2 linked regions of the Homo sapiens genome follow. The protein of the gene in region 2 interacts with the protein of the main gene of each other region in a biochemical or structural test. Each region holds a gene or a part of one and is shown on either strand. Other genes may lie near its edges.

The links.
Region 1: the proteins of NEO1 (region 2) and HJV form a complex in vitro, tested with the Homo sapiens proteins (one study listed by IntAct).

The regions. Positions count from the first base shown.
Region 1 is NC_000001.11:146,018,930-146,023,249, forward strand, and holds the start of HJV (hemojuvelin isoform a precursor), read right to left. Parts: upstream 2,807-4,320; 5' UTR 2,658-2,806; intron 1,410-2,657; exon of another isoform or gene 1,392-1,409; 5' UTR 1,303-1,391; coding exon 1,206-1,302; intron 806-1,205; coding exon 246-805; intron 1-245. UniProt on the Homo sapiens protein: Acts as a bone morphogenetic protein (BMP) coreceptor. Through enhancement of BMP signaling regulates hepcidin (HAMP) expression and regulates iron homeostasis.
Region 2 is NC_000015.10:73,055,438-73,059,255, forward strand, and holds part of NEO1 (neogenin isoform 1 precursor), read left to right. Parts: intron 1-3,818. UniProt on the Homo sapiens protein: Multi-functional cell surface receptor regulating cell adhesion in many diverse developmental processes, including neural tube and mammary gland formation, myogenesis and angiogenesis.

The sequences.
Region 1 (4,320 bases), on a different chromosome or scaffold from region 2:
AACTCCTCAGGTCCGCCCTCTCCGACTGTCTCTTCAAGGTTTTCTGCATTTGAGTCAAATTCCCATCAAGGGGAAGTGATTTACAGCTCCAGGTGTTTGGTAGAAGGGAGTGATTCGAGATGGGGGAGAGGTTGAGGAAGAAAAGGGAATTAGGGAGCATTGCTGTTGAATAGTGGGGATGGGGAGGAATGGTGCCCGTGGAAGAATCTCATGAGGTGGATCGGAAGGAAGATTGAGTGCCTGACCTTCCGGGTGGCGGTAGCGTTGGCCCCCAACGCCATGGGGGAGCTGGTGGCTTGGACAAAGAGGAAGTCATTATCCAGTAGAGGCCAAGCTCCTTGGACACGGCATGTGTGAAAGTGATGGTGGAAGCTGCGCACATGGGGGTCCCCGAAGGAAGCGCAATGCAAGAACCCCGGGGGACGACCATGCAGCCGGGAAAACCGGCCTTCATAGTCACAAGGGTCCGGGGCAGGGAGGCCGGAGCCCGCGCCTGGAAGGGCGGGGCCCCGGGGCGGGGGAGGGGCTGTAGGGCCCTGGCGGGAGCAGTTGTGCTGGATCATCAGGTCTTCGATGCCATGTACCGCCGAATGGAAGGCGAGGTCCCCGCGGCAGGTGCGGGCGGTGCGCCGAGTGCAGAGCGCATAGGAGCGGAGGGCTCGACAGAGGCCGCCAGAGCCCACCCCTCCACCCCGGCCTCCTCCTCCTCCTCCTCGAAGTGCTCCTGATGAACCCCCACCTCTAAGGCTCAGAGTGGACGATACGTACTCAGCATTGCAGCGGAGGATCTTGCATTGAGAATGAGCTAAAGACAGAAGGGAGAGGATTGTGAGACGGTCCTCAGACCTCTGCTCTATCGGAGTGTAGTTTGCTCATAACTCTTCCAAATCTCATCAGGGGTTTCCAGCCTTCCTAAAACCTAACTAAGGGCCTTCCCCAGCCCCCAACCCCCTAGTCCCTAGTTCTCTCGGCTGTCTTACTAAAAGTGTGTAAGCCTGCCACATCTCTTCTGCCTGTCGACCAAGGGCTTCCCCAGTGGCCTTCCCCAGACTGAACGGGAAATAAAATATTAGTATTTGAGAGCAGGGCGAGTGATCGGGACTCTCAGCGCCTATCTCTCCTCACTCATTCAGGCTCACATGCCCACCCCTACATAGCAGCCTACCCTCTAGATTTCCCCAAACCCTTCCCTGGCCCTTCCTTACCATGTCCACAGAGGAGCAGCAGGAGAGTGAGAGTGCTTAGAGTTGGGGGACTGCCATGGGAGGACCTGGGACTAGGGGACTGGCCTGGCTCCCCCATACCTATCCAGCCAGGTTTCCCAGGCGCCGGTTCTTCCCAGCTGATGACCCTCCTACCTAGTGAATTTTGACCGGAAGCCCTGTAAGTGACTGAAAAAAGAAATTTGGCTGGACATGGAGAGAGAGAAGAATTGAAGATTGGTAAGGATAATGTGGAGTGAATCTGGGGAGATCAAGAAAAGGATGAACAGACTGGAATTTGGGGAGATTGGAGTTCCTCAAACTATAAGTGTGGCAGTTAAGCCTCTTTGCCCTGTTCCTGTGGCCACTTTTAGGGCCCTTGTGCAATACCCCTAGGTGGGGGTGGAGGGAAGGTTGAGTGAACTCAAGGGGGCAGAGTCCACTGTATTGCTCCATTCTGAGCTACCAAACAGCAGGTATGTCAAAGATGGAGGAATCATGGGGCTAGATCAGATACCAGTAATCCTAGTGGGTACCCTAGTAAAATTAGGACCTGAAAATATTTCAGAAACATACTTCTTATTTGTCCCTCTCCATTAGGAGGAGATGCCCTCTAGGAGTCATACATTTCTTTTCCTCCTTTGTGTCAGAACACAAGAAGGATTAAGGGTGGCATACCCATCCCGTCTAGAATATCAGTATTCAAATGAAAAGGAAACCAATCTCTTTTCATCAGCTCTAGAGAGCTGCAATTTTAATCTCCCTCTCTCATGGAATAATGGGATGCAAACCAAACATGCAAATCAATATTTGTTTTTTCTAAGTCAACAGTTCTTGTATTTTCCCAAATATCACTCCTTCCATTAATCTCTTCTTTTCAAATTCTGAAGTTCTCAGTCTTTTATGATGACAGGAGTTGGAGAGGGGCTAAATCCCTCCTGCCTAACTCCCCTATCTTATGGGTAAGGATATGATTGGGGGAAGAGTCCTGCAAGAGGGAGAATAGAATGGAGGGACTAGAGTTGTGGGGAGAAATCATTTACAGGGAGCAGCCCCCATGCTTGGAATCTCAATGTGAAGGGCATTGCTAAGTGGGGGCAGGATAGAAGGGTATCAGTGACTCATCATCTGAGGTCATATTTGGCCTTGGTAAGAAAACTACAGAATAGAGGACGTAGGGAACTCCTTCTAAAACTTCATCAGGAGTCTTGAGGTAATAAGGTAAAGAGAGGGCTAAGACTGCCAGAGGAGAGACAGAGAATTAAACTTCAAAAAGCTAGAGGCCAGAGGCCAGAAAGAAATAAGACAGAAAGAGAAATGGAGATTGGGGCACCTTGGTAGGGAGAGATCCCAGCATTTGGACGAGAGACATCCAAGTAGGTGTTTGTAATTTTATAAAAGTCTAACTTCAATATAAAAGCTTATTAAAGGAATTGCAATTTCATTTTGACTTACTGTTTCCAGAGGTCAAACATTACTCTGCTATCCAATTCTCCAGCCATGATTCCCTACTCTGTGGGTCAGCTCCAGCCAGGGGGTCCTCCGTGTCTCCCCCAGGTCCCCAGGCCGGCTGCTGTCTCACTGAGGTCAGGGAACCAGAGAAGGTTTGGTATGGGGGGAAGGGGGAGTATATGGCTGGCCAGAGTACTGGACAGCTGAGCAGGGAGGGAGGTGGCTACTGAGTTGACGGTTTTAAAAATAGCTAAGTCCAAAATTCCAGGAACGTTGGTGGGGGTAGGGTGTGGGAGTTGGGGGAGTGGGGAGGGTTAGAGGATTAGAAAGAATATGGAGTATTGAGTGCCAAGTCAGGGAGGGAGGAGAGAAATATGACAGACAAGTTGGATATCCAATTCCAGCTTGTGTGACTCTGTGGTCACTGCCTACTCCAGGCAGCCCTCCAGCATTTTCAATAATGTTGAGCTCCTGGCCTTTAAAAATTACAGTGGGCAATTGGATACCTTTCATTTACCATGTTCATCCCTGCTATGCTGAATATTACATTTAGGTTCTACAGATAGTATCTAGGAGGTAGCTGACTTTGAATAAGATCCATAGCAGAGGTAGTTCATAGCCCCTCTCCTATCTTTGCAGAGTATTTCAGAAGGACGAAAAAAGCCAGCTGTCCAGAGAAGAAATCTGAGCTGTGAGTTGCTTAGGATGAGGGTTTGTTCAGTCTATCCAGCTCAGATCCTTGCAGCTGTCTATCCTCCTACCTACTCCATTTTCATTACTTTAGTTTGTACAGCAATTCATCTTCCTCTCCCTCATGAATACACAAAAAATAAAGGCTCCCGATTTGCTTGGAGAGAAGGCTAACAAAGGCAAAGAGGTGAAGAAAGAATGGAAATAGAATTCTTCTAAAGAAAGAGTTGGAGAAATAGAAAAAGATTCAAAAATATACTTTTCCTTCCTTCCTTCCTTCCTTCCTTCCTTCCTTCCTTCCTTCCTTCACTCCCTCCCTCCCTCCCTCCCTCCTTCCTTCCTTCCTTCCGAGATGAGGTCTCACTATGTTGACCAGGCTGGTCTTGAACTCCTTGCCTCAATGAATCCTTCCATCTCAGCCTCTCAGAGTGCTGGGATTACAAGTGTGAACCAACATGCCTAGCCTCAGAAAGATACTTTTATGGAATAACATAATCTTGTGACCATAAATATTGCAAAATCTCAGCACTTTGGGAGCTGAGGCAGGAGGGTCACTTGAGCGCAGGAGTTTGAGGCTGCAGTGAGCTATGATAACGCCATTGCACTCCAGCCTGGGCAACAGTGAGACCCGCCCCCCCACCCCCCTTAAAAAAGAAAAGAGATACTGCAACCAAGGGATTTAGCCATGTCATGTTTTTGCAGCCATAGGTATATCTGAGATCATCATCTTTTAGTACTTGCCAAGTGAAATTAACAGAAGGACCGATTCCAAATACGGTCACTGTATTAGGGTTCTCTAGAGGAACAGAACTAATAGGGCATATATCTATATCTGTATCTACCTCTATCTATATAGAGATCTATATCTATATCCATGTCTATCTATCTAGCCATCTAGACTGGCCATCACCAGTCTGCTTTCTGTCTCTCTAGATTTATTAATATCTATATAGATATGGATATCTATATAGGTAGA
Region 2 (3,818 bases):
TTTCAGCATTACTCTATCTTCAGGTTAATCTCTTCTCTGATTAATTCTTCATTTGTCTTTCTGGCTTTTCTTGAACTCACTCACTTAAATATTAGTATCTAAAGCTTATCTCATTATACATACTCTGTTTGCCCTCAGTTGCCACCTGTAAGCTAAGGACTCTCTTAGTCCACACTTTCTCACTTGCCACTCGGTACCTTCACTAAATAGGATCTTAGGTTACTGAAGTCCGAAGTTAAACTCTGTGTCATTTTCCCTCGTGCTTCCTTCATCCCCATTCTCTAAACATGAACAAACCAGTTCCTGGCCCCTGTGTCTCATGTTGTTGGAAGGATTGCATGGATTTGTCTTCTTGTGTTGCCTGTCTTGGTCATCACTGTTCATCCACTTGCCCAAGCTGAGATCAAGAAGACCTCCTCTTCCCATTGCCATAGCGGATAGTTCTTTTTGCTTTTTACCTCTCAGCTGTTTCTTGACTCTGAATCGGTATCTTTTCATCTTCATCCCCACCTGGACTAACAGTAGTGGCTCCATAATTAATCTCTTTGTCTGTACTGTTACCCTCTAGAAGTCTGTCCTGCTAGAATGAGCTTCCTGAAATATTTTCCTGAGCATGCCACTCTCCTACTTAAAATCTGTTACTAGTGTTCTGTAGCTTGGGTGTTAGAACTCTTTGGCATGGAGATTGTGAGGCCCTTTGTATTCTTTACCTCTGTTCTCCCAAACCCAATAAAGCCTCATCTCTTGTCACCCCTAACATGCACCTTGCATTCCACCACTCCAGATTAACGACACAGCTTCAGATCTCCGTGCCTTTGCACATGCTGTTCTTTCTGTTAAGTCACTTCTCACCTTGTCCACTTCTGAAACTCCTTATCTAGTCAATGAATTTTTCTCTACCAGCTTTCTCTTCCAAAGAGAGTTATGGTCACTATTCTGTGTTCCCATAGCTTCCTGAGTACTTTTCATCTTCTGTTACTTATTTTCTTGTCTTTTCTGCTAGTCTCAACCTCTGAAGGGGTTGGCCGGGTTGTCTTATTCACCTTTGTTTCCCTAGTGTAGCACTAACATGTAGCATAGAGAAGATAACCAGTAAATGTTTGTTGACTGAATGTTGAATTGCCTTTGTTTTTAACCCGTAGGGCCATACAGCACAAATCTGATTCCTTTATATGATGGCCCTTCATGTGTCTAATCACATTTCCTGTGTGCATGTGTGTGTGGGCCCCCCCTGCCCTTCCCCTCAAACCTTATCCTTTTTAAGTTAACCATCCTTAATTCCTTCAGCCACTCTTCACATTACTTAGTTTCCAGATCTTTTGTGATCTTGGTCATCCTCCTGGATATGCTGTAGTTTTAGCGTTTTTTTAGTTTTGTCATCTTTGGAAAGATCTTTGATCTTACTGAGTCATCTAAAAGAAAAGACTGATGGCGTTGCTCTGCCTGTCTGTTAGAATGAGGCACAAAAGAGATCATAGAATTCTGGGATGAATGCTCAAAGAAGATAAGAAATATGACTGATTTTCATAAACTGTATGAAAATTAATACATGATGTGAGATAGTGAAAAGACATACATGAAGGCAGAGGATATGGGGTATGACTTGTGGTTCTGCAACTTCACATACATCTGTAAGTTGGGGGATATAGGCAGGCAAGAATAATACCTTACCTACCTAACTGGATTGTCAGAAAAATAAAATGTAAAATTGTTCATAAACTATAAAGTACTGTACCTATGTAGAATGGCTTCAGTGTTTCTTTGTGAACTCTAAAAATATACTATATTAAATTATTTGAAAGTGTAGACTTTTTTTTCTTTTGGCTTAATTGATCATTGCTGGTTTCTTCCTTATGAGTTTTTCTCTACCTCAATGAAAATATTGGGGTAACCTTAATAAATCTCATTATATGGAGGCTGTATTTAATAGTCTTTTTTCCAAACACTTTATTTTATTAGTGACTTCCATGTGATTGGGAGCTATTTACCATATCATTGGTAAGTGTTTAGGTTTCTGGGTAAAATTGCATCAATAATTGGAGAACAGTCAGAGGAAATGACTGTAGGTAAGATCATATTGACCGGAGAGCTAAGTGAAGTGAGGAGAAGTTTTGTGTTTACGATTTTGAAAAATTAACTTTGTCATGGACATAGCTAGTGAAAGATGATTTTAAAATAGAGCTCAAATTTTGGATTCATTTAGAATGAAGAGAGTTTTTTTGATTCAAAAATTTTGTAAATAGTGACAAAAAAAGGCATTCAGACCCACTGGTATGATTTTGGTATATTTCTTTCTACTTACTGCCTATATGGCACATTATCTTTTTACATTGTAATCATGGTGTATGTATAACTTGAAATGTTTTCCTTTGACATTATACCATTTTTCTTTGTTGTCACATTATCTTTAAATCATTTTATTTTAAAAACTTATTTAAAAATACATAAATATATGTTTGTTTGCAGTCAAACAATATAAAAATACATAGAATAAAAGATTTTATCACTTCTACCCACAAATTCCATTTTTGAAACCCATAAGTAACCCCTTTTAATATCTTCCCTTGCATGTGCATATGTGTGTATGGTTTTATTTTTTTACAGATAAGCAGGATCATACTACCTATTGTTTTTTCAACTTGCTTTTTCACTTAGTATGTTGGAGATCGTTCCATGCCAGTACATACAGATTTTCCTATAACCATTATTTAAAATGTGTGTGTAATATTCCAGGGAGCAAATATAATAATAGTGGCTAATTAAAGTAGTAGTTACAGAACACTCCCTGACTTCCAGGCATTGTGCCATGCTCTTTCACATGTATTTAATCTTTTATACAGTCCTGTGAGGAAGATGACAATTTCTTCACATTCCACAGATGAGGAAACTGAGTCTCAGATATTAAGTGCCTTGCCGAAGGTCTCACAACCTTTCATGTGCAAGAGTTGGCATTGGAATCCAGGTTTTTGCAACTTCAAAGCCTATGTTCTTTATTCCTCTGCATTCTGCTGCTAATTGTGTATTCTCCTGTTATGGATATGGAAGTTGTTTTTACTGTTTTGCTGTGATAAAGAATGCTGTGATGAACATATTCTTTCTATATTTTGGATTCCCCCATATAGGATTGCTGGTGAAAAGTTAACTTGTGTGTGTATGTGGGGGTCAGGGTTCCATTTATTGCAGAAAAGTAATGATGTCATTAAGAATAATTCCATTGACTAATACTTTCATAACTTTTTGAAGGTTTTACCACTTTTAATTGTGAACTTTGGGTACTTAAGGCCATGTTTTAAAATGCAAGTTCATCTGTTAACTGAAAGGTTAAGCTAATTAATAAGTAATTTCAAAGGTCCCTTCTGCCTTCCAGGTTTCTCTTACTCTGAAGTCCATAAAATGGAACAGTGGGTTTATTTCAGCTTAATAACTTCTATTCAGTTATTGTGTTCCAACACTGGTCATTTCTGGTTTTCAGATGCAAAAGTCACCTTTTTTTCATTCGCTAAAGCTCAGGTTATTGTATATCTTTTTTTTGTAGTGCAAAGTAGGATATGATTGGAAAATCGTCTATGTTACTTGCAAATGATTGTATATGATTTTATTTTATATGTGTAAAAATAGCTTTAGGGCTGAGTTATATGGCTTCAGTGTTAAGTAATTGTGAGGTATTTTAAGATACAGTATTACCAGAAATATTAGATGCTTACTCTTAGGCTTGGAAGGGATGTAGAGTAAATTGACCAGGTTACAGAGCTGGCTTATGTAAACAGGTTTTGATTCCCTGTCTGACCCCTTTACATAAAGAAAAGGCAGAGAGGTAT